Linked DNA regions of Homo sapiens. The protein of the gene in region 1 interacts with the protein of each later gene in a pairwise test. Each region holds a gene or a part of one and is shown on either strand. Other genes may lie near its edges.

Region 1 (8,567 bases):
AGGGACAGGGGCCCAGGCCACATGTCACCACCTCACTTGGGGCTGGTTCCAGTAGAGCACACAGGACGCCCATCCCCCCGGCACCAGGGTGGTAAGAAGCCTCTGGTTCCCCCAGGAGCGGGGGCCAGGTGAGAACAGCCCAGGGTCCTCGGAGGTGGACCTCGGCCCCTCCCCCATGACAAGCCCAGGACCTTGAGGCAGAATGGCCACCTTTCGGGAGGGAGGGTTGGTGAAGAGGCCCGGACACCCTGCATTGGGTAATGCCGGGAGGGGATCCCCTGCCAGTGCCCCCCCCTCCAAGCAGGGGGACTTTGTCCACGGCTGCCCCCAGTGCCCTGCCAGGAGGCTGAGGACCCCGGCACATCGGCAATGCTGCTCCCACCCTGCCTTCAGGCTAGCCTAGAGACCACAATGGAGAAATCATGCCCCCATAGCGAGGGGACTTCCTCAGCCCGGCCACCAGCACTCTCTCCAGCCCTGGGCTCAGATGGCTTCTGGCTGCTTCTAGAAACAGAGCTCTTCCACCACGAGCTGTTGGCGGGAGACCTGGCTGATGCAAACAAATTCCCGCAGGGAAATCCACCTGCATCCATGCACGCATGACATCCACAGGGCAGGCCCGCATCCACGCATGGGTGACAGTCAGGACAGACTGCAAGCTGCTATTTTGGGGAAAACAATGAGAGGAGATTTCTTCTTTTTGCTCAGGGTCCCTGAACCTCAGCCCTCCTGAGATCTCTTGTTTTGGGGGCTCAGGATCCCTGAACCTCAGCCCTCCTGGTACTGGGCCGGGTCGTCTGTTCGGGGGGTCGTCCTGTGTGCTGAGATGCTCAGCAGCATCCCTGGCCCCCTCAGCCTGCCCAGCTCACCTGTCACCAAACCTGACTCCACATCTCCACTGTCCCGGGGTAGGAAGACAGAACTGCCCCTGAGTGAGAACCACCATTATTGCTTAACGGTTTTTTTCTCCTCTACTCTGAACACATCTGAATTGCGCAGCAAACACACATTGACCAGAAAGCTGCCAGAGCCCCCTGGAGCAGGTACAGCAGGTGCAGGTGTCCCGCGTGGACCCCATGCCCAAGGGAGCAGCGCAGAGCAGGGCCTCGGCTCCTCCGCAGATCCCAGGCTGAGAAGCTAGCCACGATCTTCTCTGAGAATGCGTTCCTGCCTTCCCTCCCACAGACACACGGAAACTCTCCACCTGACACGGGGGCTGCCAGCTCCCGGCACAACCCGCTTTGCGGCAGGGCTGGCTCTGCAGAGCCTGAGTCTATAAAAGGGGGAGAGGTGTGCACAGGCACTCAAGTTCGGTGTTGAAATAAAATCTTGCGCAGTAAAAAGTTTCACGTGTGTTGGGGAACAAGGCCCTAGGGCCAAGAAGCAGCAGCCTCCCACCGGGCCCCTGGCAGGCTGAGACCACTCTCCCCTTCCTGCGTGGCCAGCATCCTCCCGGGCTGGGCCCCTCCTCCTCCACACACCCCTCACAAAGGACTCAGGTGCTCGGCTAAACAGGAGAGGGCTACAGCATGTGAGTAGCCCCATGGCAGACCCACCCTGAGGGTGGGAGAGGCCTCATGCTCAGATGAGGGCTTCAGGCAGGGGTTGCGTGTGGCCCTGAGACCAGGACGGGGTCCTGGCCTCAGCTGCCCAGCTCCCGGGTGGTCAGTGCCGCCCTTTGTGTGAATGGAGCCCCTCCCCCAACACGGGCCCCTGCACTTACCTCCGCTCATGACCCACGCACCACGCCTGCCACCCACAGCCGGCCTTCCACACCGGCACCGTGTGGCTTAAGGCCTGCACGCACGGCTGGCGGCGGCCCACCAGGGTCAGCTCCTGCTCAGCACACACGTGGGGCCTGGAACAGAGACACGGAGAGTCAGCGCCTCGGCCACCCCCAGCCGGCAACACCCACCCCTCCTGCACCCCCAGCCTTGGGTGTCAGCTCATCTGGAGTGAGGTCCAGACCCGTGGCCAGGCCTCCACGGCACAGTGCCCATGCCAGTGCCCCAGGCCAGCCGTGGGACCCAGGCTTGAGGGCACAGGAGCTCAGGGGAAAAGGCAAGATGACCGCAACATCCCCCACGCATGGCCCACAGCGTGGATCCTAGTGCCCTAAGACCTTGCAACACAGCCACCAACGACGCTGCCTCAACAGACAGGAACTGTGGCCTCAAGGCACAGTCACACCTCGTCCAGAATCCAGGACCAAGCGCGGGCCCATTCTGTCCTCTCCACCCCAGCCCTCCCCACCTCGCTTCAGAGATGTCCCCAGGCCTGATGTTGCTGGGGCACATGGCTGGGGTGAACCCGGGCCCATCCCCTGTGAAGTCAGCGGCTCCCCGGCATCCTATGACCCACACTGGTGAGTGTTTGCTCTTGGAGGAGGAGGTGAAAACCCCAGCCCCATCCCTGCCAAACTCCTTCAGGTCCCTCCAAGGCCTCTCCAGCCCAGAGGCTGCATAAACCAGGGGAGGGGGCATGCCAGGGACAGGCACCTTAAGCCAGCCATCCAGACCCCACCGGGCTCGGAGCAGGTGGAGAAAGGACTCAGGCCCTGCGGGGGGAAGGGTCAGAGGGAGGGACCCTCCAAAGACAGCCACACGGGCCAGCACCCCCAGAGCAGGGGCTCGCCCCTGGCCTGCCCTGACCGAGGGGTGAGGCGGGCTCCCTCCACAGAGGCAAATTCGGGGGGAGAGGACAAGGCTCCAGTGCTCGTGTCCCACTACGTCAGGTGACGTCTGGGGGGCCTCAGAGGAAAGAAGAGGCTTGTCCTGCTCTCCCAGCTCTGGACTTGCTCCCCAGAACCAGGGCCAGGCATACCTGGTGCGGGCCGGTGTCTCCCCTCCAGCCTCAGGTGCAGCAAGCCTGGCAGATCCCACCAGAGCCCCTCCCACCTCCTGGGGGCAAGCAGGTGGCATGGGTTCCCCCAGCCTCCTCATCAGAGGTCCCCACCCCACCGGGAATATTGTCCAGGCTCGGTACCGCCCTCCGCCCAGGCCTTGCCAGGAGCTCCTAACCAGCCGCCGCCCCGTGGGCCGGACCCTGGCTCAGCACTCAGAGACTGCCCGCCCCGTCCAGCCACCCTGGCCCCAGGCCAGCCGCCCCCAGATGGAGGCTCTTGCAATGGAGGACTTATTTTTCCTCTTTCCTGGGGCTCGTGCTGTGTGGGAAGCCCTGTGTCCCCTCTGACTTCAGCCCACCCCCTTGTGCTGAACAAATCCAGAAAGCACAGACCCAACATAGCGATGGCAAAAACTGAGAGGGGCAAATGGCAGGGCCTCACCAGCCGGGACAGCAGGGGCTCCACCAGGCTGCTGTGGCACCCAGAGGAGGGACCCTGGCCTCCAGCTGCCCACCCACGAAGGGGCAGACGAAGGCTGGGACCAGAGTCCAGCTCCAGGTCTCCAGTCAAGTCCGAGAGGGGCTGGGGCTGCTGCTGGACATGTCCTGCCCATGACCTCCTGCCGAGAGGTTCTGCCCACACTCTCCCGCAGTTTCCCAAACGTCCCATCCCAGGGCTGAGGCTTGCCCACCCGAGGTAGCGTTGATTCCTGGAGTCCAGGCCCAGGTGACTGCAGGGTGGGGCACAAGGCAGGGCACGAGGCAGGGCAGAGCTCCTCCTGGCCATAAGCAGGGTCCAGGTTCCCCACCAACTCCCAGACAGACCGGCAGCTGCAGCCGAGAAGCCTCCGCAGCAATGGGGACCCTCCAGCTAGGCGGGATCAGCTGCACGAACCCAGGGCAGGTGGAAAGGCTCTGCCATTGCCTCTTCCTGCACCAGGAAGACAACTCTCACCTGGGTGGAGAGCGAGACTTCCAAAATCCCCGACTATTTCTACCTGGGAGCTGGGGAAGAGGTGACTCGTTCAGGAGTGCCTCCTCCGTGCCCAGCACCAGGTCCTTTCCTGACATTACATCATCGAATCTCTCCCCTCCCAGGGAGGAAGTGACAGTGACCCCCTGATCTGCTCAAGATCACCAGCTAATGGTGATGACTAAGGGCCAGGTCTCTCCCACCTTCCCCCAGCACTGTTGGGCCTCTGTGTCCTAAGGGCCACGGATCCCAGAGTGAGAATAGGGGAGGGGGCAGGACCAGAGGTTGGATCAGGGACAGAGGGTCACGTCTCCAGGGAGAGCCCTCCTCAGCCTCCCTGGGGCTGGGTCCTGACCTCATTCCTGACCCCCAGACTACAGCACCCATGGGGGATGGTCTCACAGCCCCCAGGGCCACTGCCCCACCCCACCCTGCTGTGACCCAAGGCTGACCTCTGTGGATCACATCCTCCCAGCACCTGCACACACACAAACACACACCCTCACACTCACACTCTCAGTCACACACAAACTCACACTCAATCACACACATTCACAACCACTCATACACACACCCACACACAGTCACACACTCACAGTCACATACACCCTTACTCATACTCAGTCACACACACCCACACACACAGTCACACACACTTTACATGGACTCGAACACAATCACACTAACAGAAGGCACTCACACATACTCTCACACCCACACAATCACACAAACGCAATCACACACATTCACATTCATATGCATGCTTACACACTCAACATGCTCATACACTCACGCACGTTCACACACACTCAATCACACTCACTACCATACCCACAATTACATACACACAACTCACAATCACTTTCACACTCAAAATCACACACCCTCATACACACATATGCTTACCTATACACACATATACACAATTACACACATACACACACAATCACACACATACACATTCACACTCACACACAATCACACATATTCTCATACACTCATACACTCACATACACACACATACACTCATACAATGACACACACACAATCACATACATACTCATGCACACGCACACTTCTGTACTCTCACGCATGCAAGCTCACAAACTCACACACACTCGCACACACATATGCACTCTCAAACTCCCATTCACACACACTCACAGATACACACACAGGCACACACACTCACTTACACACTTTGCCTTCTGGCTGCCAGGTGGGTTTAGTCAATGGGAGGACCAGGAAGAGATGTGGAAGAGGCACTGGGGTGTGGCCCTCCTGTCAGGGGCGGAGGCCGTGCCCACTCTCTCCAGGTTCCAGGACCCGGCCCCCACCCAAGGGATGGCCTTGGCTCCACGGTGGCACCCCCGTGCTTCCTGCGCCCCTTCATGAAGATCCCTCCCCAACCCCTCCCGGGACAGTGCCACCCTGTCCTCCTCCTACTGACAGATACTCTGTCCCCCTGAAACTTCAAAAATTCACACTTTCATGTAACAGTGTCAAATTTGGGATCAGAGACAGGTGTTTTAAAGAACTAGCACATCTTGGAGGGCAGAACTCGTGATGAACGCACCCACCCCACCAACCATCGGGCTCTAGGGCTGCAAAGCGTCATGCAGTGGTTCTCAAAGTGGGGTCCCCCGGCCAGGACCAGCAGCCTCTCCTGGGAACCTGCAGAAATGCACACTCCTGGGCCCCACCCTGGACCACTGAATCCAGGACTCTGGGGGTGGGGCCCAGCATTCCTCGGGGTGGGAAGGATTGCGTGTGTTTGCCCAAGCCCACCAGGGGATGCTGGAGCACACTCAAGCTTGTAACCCCAGGCCTAGCGGTTTGAAGCAAGGTCTCACCGCCAAGCAGCCTGGGTTTGAATCTCAGCTCCCCACGCCCCATCTTTAAGACGCGCAGGTTACTGAACCTCTGCCTCAGTTTCCTCACCTGTAAAATGAGGACTCACAGCAGTGACCTTGCCAGGTTTGCATGAGGGTTAGATGAGCCTGCACAGAAAAGGGCTCCCGACAGCCCTCAGGAGGTGTGAGCTAGTGTTACTGCAGATACTGGGACTGTTTATTCCGGAAAAAGTGTCACTTGTACCTGGAAAGTGGGCCATAGGAACTGCTACAGGCATTGAACGCTTTTGCCGTCCCTGTGCCTTGCAACGCACTTACCCACGGCGAGCCCTGGGCACAGGTGACCTTGAACTCCTTGCCATAAAAAAACGGAAGCCGGGGGGAATAGGCCAATGATCCCTGAGCTTCTGGGCTACAGGGTCCAGCCCCTGACTCTGTGATGGCCCCTGTGCTGAGGGCAGCCACTGTGAAGGGACTCTGTCACCATCTCAGGATGGAGATGACACAGAGAGGGCAGAGCTGTGAGCTTGGGTTTTCAACAGACACCCCAGGCCTGGGGCCTGCTGTGCAGCCTGGAGTCACTGACCATCTCTGAGCCCTCAATTCAGCATCTGGAAAGCAGGCGTGATGACAGCTTGGGCCTCCGGGGCTTGGAGACATCAGGGACACGGCCGGGGTTAGGGGTACTGAGGGGTTGGGTGCTCCCCTCAGAAGGGCCTTCTTGTCCTTCCCGGCCCTCCTCAAACCTCAGCAATCTCAGCTGCCACTAACCAGCAAGACGACAATGCTGAAGGACTCACCGAGACCCCTTGCCAACCCCACCCTGGACCACCCAGCAGCCCTTCCCGCACATCACACCCGTCACTCTCCCGGCCCCTGCCCGCCTGGTGCGCCCTATGTCTCCCCAATAACTCCTCCCCTTCACGGCTCTCCCCAAGGACGGAGGGCCCTTGCCCTGCCCAGCCAGGCTGTGGTCCCTGAAAGCAGCTCCTGGATGGCTCTTGCAGTGACCCCCAACAAAATTGATTGATCATCAATCAAGCCAGCCTTCAAGGAGGGGGTGAGTGTGGGAACGACTGTCTCCTCTGGGGACTTCAGCACTGCACACACGGCCACAGCACCGCACCCGCACGGCCCCGGCGGCCTTTCCACCTGTGAGGATGGAGAAGGTGGCAGGGGAAGGGCAGGCAGAAGAATGGACAAAAAGAAACCTCCCACTGCTGCACATGGGTCTGAGGAGAACCCAATAAAGCACCTGGTGACCTTTGACAGGACCAGAGTCCCAGGCCTTTCTGTTCCTTGCGGCTGGATCCCGCCTCCCATCTGGGGGCGTGGAACAGGAATTCCCAAACTACAAAGTGGACCTGGTGCAGTCGGAGGCGGAATGCTCCCAGCTGGTGGGCCATCTGCTCCCGAGCAGAGCCGGGGCTCCACGGGCAAGAGATGGGCGGGCATGCTGCGGGGTCCCTCCAGGGCAGGCAGCGACAGTCTGGGCCCAGCGACGGCATCACCAGGTTGGGGAGGGCGGGGATCCAGAAAGCAGGCAGCCAGCCTGGCTCAGCTCCCCAGCCTGGCTGAATGCAGCCCCTGAACAAACCCCTGTGGGCGGCGGGGGTGAGGGGAGTTGGGGGGGCTCGCTCAGGACAGCGGCCCTGGAGGGCGGGGCTCGCTCAGGCCAACGGCCTCGCGCTTATTTTTAAAGGCTCGTTTTTACCCCCATGGTTCTCCTCTGCTTATGCTTCCCAGGGCCCCATGCAGCCAGCATGCGGGGAATCTCAAGGCCCTGGGGTTGGGGGAGCCCAGCTCCTGCCCTGGGGCCCCTCGGACTCTCAGGTACCTTCCTGTAGACAAGGAGACAATGAACAATGTCACTCAAAGCCCCAAAGGCAGCAGCTCACAGAAGTGAGAGCTCCTTCCCCTCCAGGTCACGTGCTGTGAAACTCATGGCCCTAAGGGGAGGCTGAGAACAGCTGCCTTCTACACCCTGGGGTCGGGGAGCAGGCCTGCTGACAACCTGCAGGCCTCAGGCTCACGAATGGGGCCCTTGGAGCCCATGGCCCCAGTGGATCCAAAGAGCTACTTGCAAGATTGGACTTGAGCTTGCAGGGCCCGACCCGCCCTGGAGGGAAGGCATCATATCATTAGCTGATTCCAGAACACTGGCCATTTTTGTAGCACAGCTGCCCAGAGGGGACTCCATCAGAGAGAACCTGAGCCCCGCGAAGCAGACACTCCTCTCTGTAGCCCAGCAGCACCTCTCAGGGTCTCCAAAATGTGGAGCTTCCAACCATGGCTGGTCCGAGCCCTGCGGGTCCATGCCTTAGCAGGTGGGCAATCGGCCCCCGTCTCCCAGACCCCGTTCCCAGATGCCCAGCCAGCAGCCTAGGCCTCCTGCATGAGGCCCCAGGAAGGAGGCCAGCCATCCTTCCTCATAGTGGAAATTCACTTTGGAGTGACCTGAATCAGCAGATAGATCAGTTCTGCCCGCTCCAGGGATGGGGCAAAGCACCTGGATCTGCGAGTTGGAGGGCACACCCCTCGCTGCCTCCGACAGCGTCTCCTAGAGGCCCCGGCTTCTAGCATTAACAGGAGGTTGGCAGTAACGCTTCAACTCAGCAGCCAGTGGTTCAGGAACACTCAGCCAGCGGGGGTGCCGCTGCCCCGTGCCAAGCCCTGCCTGCTCATCAGATTCCCAGGAGGAAAGGGTAATGGGGAGGACAGGATCAGCAGGGACTGAGCACTCTCTGGGATCTGGCCTGCTCCTCTGGGGTAAGGGAGCCAACAGCGCCCTTGCCCCACCCCCGTACCAGAGCCCACAGCTTCCTCCTCCTTTCTGCTCCACAGAGTGAGCCTCAGAACGGGCCCTGCACTCCACAGCCCAGTGGGGACCTCTCCAG
Region 2 (7,784 bases), on another chromosome or scaffold:
TCTCTCTGTCTCTGTCTCTCTCTCTCTCTTCCCTGTCCATCTGTTTCTCTCTCCCACCCACCCCTCTGTTCTCTCTGCCCAGAAGAATCTCTATTTTGGTTTTGGTTTTGTTTGTTTTGTATTGTTTTGAGACGGAGTCTCGTTCTGTCGCCCAGGCTGGAGTGCAGTGGCGCAGTCTCAACTCACCACTGCAGCCTCCACCTCCCAGGTTCAAGCGATTCTCATGCCTCAGCCTCCCGAGTAGTTGGGATTACAGGCGCACGCCACCACGCCCAGCTAATTTTTGCATTTTTACTAGAGACTGGTTTCACCATGTTGACCAGGCTGGACCCTATCCTCTTTCAAGCCCCCCACCCCAGGCATTGAGGGCAGAGCCAACTACCTGCCTGAACCAATTAGCATATTAAACGTAAACCCAGTTAGCATATCCAAATAGCAGCCCACAGTGACATTCTGACTGTCAGAATGTGGATTGCTTGAGCCCAGGAGCTCAAGGCTTCGGTGAACAAAGATTGTGCCACAGCCTGGGCAACAGAGTAAGTCCCTGTCGATCGATAGATAGATGATAGATAGATAGATAGATAGATAGATAGATAGATAGATAGATAGATAGATAAATTTTTAAAAAAAATAATAGGCCAGGCACAGTGGCTCATGCCTGTAATCCCAGCACTTTGGGAGGCCGAGGCAGGCAGATCACCTGAGGTCAGGAGTTCGAGACCAGCCTGGCCAACATGGTGAAACCCTGTCTCTACAAAAATATAAAAATAGCCAGGCAGATGTCTGTAATCCCAGCTACTCAGGAGGCTGAGGTAGGAGAATCGCTTGAACTCTGAAGGTGGAGGTTGCAGTGAGCCGAGATCATGCCATTGCACTCCAGCCTGAGTGACAGAGCGAGACTCCATCTCAAAAATAATAACAATAATAAAAATAATAATAAATGCTCTGGCCCCAAAGTGGCACATTACATGGTGCACACCCCATTAGCAAGGACTCATCACATGGCCCTGCCAACCACAGGAGGAACCCCCCCATGTACTCAGGTAGGAGGGCCAGGAAACACCGTCAGAGAGCTTTAATGACTCACCCCATGACTGGGGTGAGGGACGAGGGACTGGCTGCAGGCCAAGGGCATGTCCGTGGCAGTGGAGACTTGGGAAAGGGGAAAAGACCTCCTCTGAGCCACGCACAGTGGCTTTCATCTGTAATTCCAGCACTTTGGGAGGCTGAGGTGGGAGGATCTTGAGCCCAGGAGGTCGAGACTGCAGTGAGCTATGTTTGTGCCACGGCACTCTAGCCTGGGCGACAGAGCAAAACCCTGTCTCAAAAATCAAAATAAAACCAAAACCAAAACTTCCTCTGTTGGGGATGCTCCAGGGCGTCCCAGCCTTGAACAGATGGGTCACTGCAGTAATAATCCTATGGCAGACACTGTCCCAAGGCTGCACGCACGTTACTTTGATCATCAAACAACCAGGTGATAGCCAGGCATGGTGGTGCGTGCCTGTAGTCCCAGCTACTCAGGAAGCTGAAGCGGGAGAATCTCTTGAACCTGGGAGGCGGAGGTAACAGTGAGTCGAGATCACATGACTGCACTTCAGCCTGGGAACAGAGAGAGACTCTGTCAAAAAAAAAAAAAAAACAGGCCAGACGCGGTGGCTCACGCATGTAATCGCCAGCACTTTGGGAGGCTGAGGAGGGTGGATCACCTGAGGTCAGGAGTTTGAGACCAGCCTGGCCAACATGGTGAAACCCCGTCTCTACTAAAAATACAAAATTAGTTGGGCGTGGTGGTGCACACCTGTAATCCCAGCTACTCGGGAGGCTGAGGCAGGAGAATCGCTTGAACCCAGGAGGCAGAGGTTGCAGTGAGCTGAGATTGCACCATTGCACTCCAGCCTGGGCAACAAGAGTGAAACTCCATCTCAAAAAAAAAACAAAAAAAAAACAACCAGCCAGGCGCGGTGGCTTACGCCTGTAATCCCAGCACTTTGGGAGGCCGAGGCGTGTGGATCACCCGAGGTTAGGAGTTCGAGACCAGCTTGACCAACATGGTGAAACTCCGTCTCTACTAAAAATACAAAAAATTAGCCAGGCATGGTGGTGCATGTCTGTAATCCCAGCTACTCGGGAAGCTGAGACAGGAGAATTGCTTGAACCCAGGAGTCGGAGGTTGCAGTGAGCCAAGCTCGTGCCACTGCACTCCAGCCTGGGCAACAGAGCAAGACTCTGTCTAAAAAAAAAAAAAAAACACACACACACACACACAACAACCAGGTGAGGCAAGTACTCTTGCTATCATCTCCATTTCACAGATGGAGAAACTGAGTTACTAAGTGGTAGAGTAACCTAAGTCATGCAGCCGATAACTGGGAGACAAGATTGGGACCCAGGTCGCCCAGCTGTTCTCCATGCCGGGCTGTCTCCTGCACAGCTGCTCCATGGTCCTGGCCCCACCGAAAACCAGAGCCCACAAGGTCATTCCAGCAGCACTGCCCAGGGCCTCCTCTGGGCCAGGCCGTTGGGGAACTGGAGACCCCATGGGGACCAGAAAGATTGGGGTCTCGTTCTCGGGAGCCTATGGCTTTGCAGCTGACCCAGAGTCCAGCTGACACCCAGGCAGGCAGTCAGGGTCTGTCTACACCCCCATTGCAGGAGGAGCCGACAAACAGCAGATGGACGCTGAGCTGCGGAAGGAGATGATGGCGATTTGGCCCAATCTGTCCCAGAAGACGCTAGACCTGCTGGTCACACCTCACAAGTGTAAGAGCTGAGCCCAGCCCTGGGATCCAATCCACCAGGACAGATGGAGGGGGAGGGAAAGGGGAGGCCTGGGGAGAGTGTTGGCCTGGGCTGGTATACACAGGGACCCAGGACAAGGGCCCCAAAGAGGCCTGCCCTTGGTGAGCTCACCGTGTGTGTGCCCCCAGCCACGGACCTCACCGTGGGGAAGATCTACGCAGCCATGATGATCATGGAGTACTACCGGCAGAGCAAGGCCAAGAAGCTGCAGGCCATGCGCGAGGAGCAGGTGCGCTGTTCGCCGCTCTGGGGACATCTGGGCTGGGGACAGTGGCTTGCATGTCACCACGGGAACCAACTGGAATATGAGGGTGGCTGAGCCCCAGGGCAGGTCCCTGAAAAGTAGGGGCTGTGCACAGCAGCTCACACCTGCAATCTCAGTGCTTTGAGAGGCCAGGGCAGAGGGATCGTTTGAGACCAGGATGAGACCACCCTGGGCAACACAGTGAGACTCCATCTCTACAAAATAAAACATTAGCCAGGCATGGTGGTGCACACCTGTAGTCCCAGCTATTTAGGAGGCCAAGATGGGAGGATCACTTGAGGCCAGGAGTGGGAGACCAGTCTGGGCAACATAGAAAGACCCATATCTCTACAAAAAAAAAATAAAATTAGCTGCATGTGGCGCCATGCACCTGTGGTCCCAGCTACTTGGGAGGCTGAGGCAGGAGAATCACTTGAACCTGGGAGGTGGAGGTTGCAGCAAGCCAAGATCAAGCCACTGCACTCCAGCCCGGGTGATAAGAGCAGGACTCTATCTCAAAAAAAAAAAAAAAAAAAAAAAAAAAAGTTCTTGCCAAGGACACATCATGTGGATTCATTCTTCATTCAGCTGCTCCACCAACACTTATTGAGTATTACTGTGTGCAGGGCGCTGTTCTCAGTCCTCGGGGATGCACCCATGGGGAAAATAGGCCAGAATCCCTGCCCTCAGGGAGCAGACATTCCAAGTGGGGAAATGCCAATGGTAGCAAATGACTGAATCGTGCAACATCCAGCAAAGAGAAAGAAAGTGTCGTGGGGGAAAGTGGAGAAGAATCCAGAAGATAGGAGTATCCAGGGGAGGAGGGGATGCGGTGGGAAATGGGTAGTTGGGGAGCCTCCCTGAGAAAGTGACATGTGAGCAAAGGCTTGAAGGAAAAGGGGAGAGGGAGTGAGCTAAGCAATACCTGGAAGGGTGTTCCAGGCAGAGGAAACAGCCAGTGCAAAGGCTCTGAGGCTGGACCGTGCCTGGGTTGTTTGGGTAACAGCAAAGAGGCCAGTGTGGTGGAAAAGAGCAGGGAGGAGACAAGGGCAAGGAGGTGACAGGGCAGATCCTTCAGGGCCATGGGAGCTGCAGGAAGGACTCTGGCTTTTTCCCCAAGCAAGTGGGAGCCATGGAGGGTTCTAAGCAAAGGAGGGATAGGACCTGACTCAAGTGCTCATGGGCGCCCTCTGGTGGCTCTTGTGGAACAGTGGGGTTGAAGGTAGGAGCGGGAGACCTGGGAGAAGGTGCCTGCAGTGAGAGATGAGGACGTGGGACCAGGCTGGGGCTATGACTTGGGTGGAGGAGTGAGAAGTGGTCCAGTTCTGCGTGGAATTGGAAGGGTCTAGATGGATGAGACCTGAGAGAGTGTGTGTGTGTGTGTGTGTGTATACTGGGGATGTCGCAATGCCTTCTGGGTACCACCGTCCCACCACCCCACCCTTGTCCACACACTGCTCTCTGCCCCATTCCCCAGGACCGGACACCCCTCATGTTCCAGCGCATGGAGCCCCCGTCCCCAACGCAGGAAGGGGGACCTGGCCAGAACGCCCTCCCCTCCACCCAGCTGGACCCAGGAGGAGCCCTGTGAGTGTCACCCCTGCCAGGGAGGTGGAGTGTGGGGGTGCCGTGGTCCCCACGTTCTGGAAGCTGCCCAAGCGCCCACTGCTACCCCGGCCTCTGTCCCCCATGCAGGATGGCTCACGAAAGCGGCCTCAAGGAGAGCCCGTCCTGGGTGACCCAGCGTGCCCAGGAGATGTTCCAGAAGACGGGCACATGGAGTCCGGAACAAGGCCCCCCTACCGACATGCCCAACAGCCAGCCTAACTCTCAGGTGCCTCTGTCCCCCAACTCCCCAATGGCTCCCAGGGCCCGGGTGGTTCAGGTGGAAGGGATCTGGGCCCCCCACACACACACACCTGCAGCTCCCTCCCTCTGCAGACACCAGGGATCTGGAGGTCAGGCCCCAGAGCTCATCTGGCTTTGCCATCTGCTCCGCAGTCCGTGGAGATGCGAGAGATGGGCAGAGATGGCTACTCCGACAGCGAGCACTACCTCCCCATGGAAGGCCAGGGCCGGGCTGCCTCCATGCCCCGCCTCCCTGCAGAGAACCAGGTGAGGGCTTTCACCACTGCCCTGGGGCTGGACCCCTCACTCTGCACTGGGTAGGGCCAGGCCCCCCCACAAGCAGCCCAGTGCATCCCCTCCCTGCCGGACTCAGGCCTGGGTAGGGACTCCTTCAGTCTCTGAAGCAGTCTGCAGGCCCCACCCACCACCTGGTCACACCTGGAGCACCTGCAGACCCTCCTCCCTCACAGAGGACAGAGAGGAAAGTGCTCCCCCTGGGGCAGAGGGCAGTGGCCACTGCAAAATGGTCTCTGGCTGCCCTGGTTGGAGGCTGCAGACAGGGGAGGTTGTGGAAGATTTGTGGGTGCAGCAGGGTTCAACAGGGCCAGCTGAGACCTGCCACGAAGATCACCCCTACACAAACACACACACACATGCTCAACATACATGCACACACATGTGCAGCTGTGCGCCTACTCAGATGCTTGCATACACACACGTGTGTGCACGTGGGCATATACACACTGCACATGTACTCACACATGCACACATGTACGTGCACACGTGTCTGCATATGGGAACTTGGCAGGTCCTAGGATACAGTAGCAGAGTCTGGGGTGGGTCTGGGGGCAGCTGGGCTCGTATTTTCTGTCTGGTCTCTGTGGGAGTCATTGGGGGGCACAGGGGTGTGTGCTTGATGTGTGTCTGTGTGTGGCCGCTTCACCCAGCTGCCAGGCCCACCTGCAGGTGATCCCGTTGCCTTGGACTCATGGGACAGAGGGCCCAGAGGCATAGCTGGCTGCCCACCCGGCCTGAACAGCGGGGGCCCATGCACGCAGCCCGCCTCTGGAGGAGAACAGGGCATGGCTGTGAGAGCCTGGCCCGGGTGCGTGGCATGTGTGGCTGTGGCGAGCTTTCCGTGTGCCGTGTGTGGCGTCTGCACGGGGCAGGAGGCTGTGCTGTGCCTGGCTGGACCAGGGTCACCTGAGGGCCTGGCCTCTGGCTGCTGGGAACGTGGGTTGGGGAGCACCCAGCGTGCATGCTGCTGCTCCCTCAGGACCGAGCTGCTGGGCCCCAGGAGAGGGTTGGGACAAGCCCAGCTGACGGCCACCACATGGAAGCTTTGAGCATCGGCCGGAGCCAGGGGTTGGGGTGTGCATCGCATGAGGCAGAGCCCAGGGCCAGGGGCTCGAGGCTGCGCCGTCCTGTCTTTCGGTCCCATGCCTCTGCCATTTGTCTGTCTGCATCTCCTGTCTGTCTCCTCTGTACCCATGGGAATAGAGGACGCCCAGCCCCGGGGGCCTGGGACACCCACCCGCCAGGACTTTAACTTTTCTTTTCCTCCCTGCCTTCTCCCTCCGATTTCTCTTGATGCCAGTGCCACTCCCCTCCTTGGCTTCTTCTCCATGCACCACCTCCTCACTCTCCCTCTTGCCTTTTATATTTATTTTCTTCTTTCTGTTTTTTCTGTGTGCACCATCCCATGGGGCTGTGACAGAGGAGAAGGGGCCGGCCACGTGGGAATAACCTCAGTGTATGTACCGCGCCTGCCCAGCGCCCAGCAGGGCTCCGGCCCCCTCTTCCTCCCCACCCCCCCTCCAGGGAGTCCCGTCATCTCTCACCGTCCCCGGACCCCACCCTTTCTTTGGCAATCGCACCCTCTCCCCTCCATGGAGCCCAATCCTTGTGTGTGGTGTCCTGTGTGTGCCCCTCACCCATAAGCCCTGGTGGGCGGGGCCATCCCCATCCTCACCCCTACCCCCTTTTCTTCAGGGCCCCCCACGCCGGAGGACACTGGCTCTCCAAGAGCCTGGCCCACTCTGCACCTCTTTCTGGGGGGCTTCTTCTCCTGACACCACCACCAACCCCTGGTCCTGCAGCTCCTACCTGGAGCAGGGCCACCAGCGCTCAGCTGGGCTGGACCCTGGGAGGCGGGCGTCTGCCCCATCTCCCTCCTTCCCTCCTCTGCCTGCTGCAGAGAAACCTGTGTGTCAGGGCTTGACCCAGGGATGAAGCACCAGGGAAAAGAGTGGGCCCCCAGAGCCTCCAGTGCCTGGGTATCCCCCACCCCCACCCAGAGCTCCCTAGCTTGGGCCTCACCAGAAGGACTCAGACTTGTGGGGGCAGCGAGCACAGCCCCGTTAGCCGGGAGGACCCAAAGCTGCCATGCCGGGCACCTGGTCCTGAGCCCATAGGTCAGCCAGCCACAGTCGGAGGCTTCTCACCCTCCCAGGAGAGCAAGCTGGGGCAGGGATGAGTGCGGCAGTCCAGGGCTCCCAGGTTTGCACCCTGGATGTGGAGAGGGCTTCCCTCTGGCCAGCCTGAGCCTGCCCAACTGTGGCTGGGCCCCCAGGACTGGAGAGTGAGGATCAGATCTTTCTGGTCAGAACCCAGGATGGGCTCAAAAGGAGCAGTCCTGTCTCTGAGGGACAGAGGAATCCTCAGGCTCCACCCTCAGAGGCCTGGCCACACCCAGAGCCCTGATTGATCAGGGGGAGCCAAGGCCCCATGGCATCCCCTGGCCCCTGCCCCAGGATGGTCACACCGCAGTCACCGAAGGCCACCACCAGGCTGCCACAATGGGGCAGGAAGGACCGGGACCACTTGGTGCTAGCTGCTGACCCCAGCCCACCGGCCTGTCCCCTCCCCCAGACCATCTCAGACACCAGCC

The links. Proteins that work in one complex are often made in the same cells at the same time.
Region 2: the proteins of MEGF6 (region 1) and CACNA1A interact in a two-hybrid assay, tested with the Homo sapiens proteins (one study listed by BioGRID and IntAct).

Annotation. Positions count from the first base shown.
Region 1 is NC_000001.11:3,600,743-3,609,309, forward strand, and holds part of MEGF6 (multiple epidermal growth factor-like domains protein 6 isoform 1 precursor), read right to left. Parts: intron 1,859-8,567; coding exon 1,724-1,858; intron 1-1,723.
Region 2 is NC_000019.10:13,209,480-13,217,263, reverse strand, and holds part of CACNA1A (voltage-dependent P/Q-type calcium channel subunit alpha-1A), read left to right. Parts: intron 1-2,655; coding exon 2,656-2,763; intron 2,764-2,930; coding exon 2,931-3,031; intron 3,032-4,523; coding exon 4,524-4,633; intron 4,634-4,741; coding exon 4,742-4,880; intron 4,881-5,047; coding exon 5,048-5,161; intron 5,162-6,611; coding exon 6,612-6,647; intron 6,648-7,765; coding exon 7,766-7,784.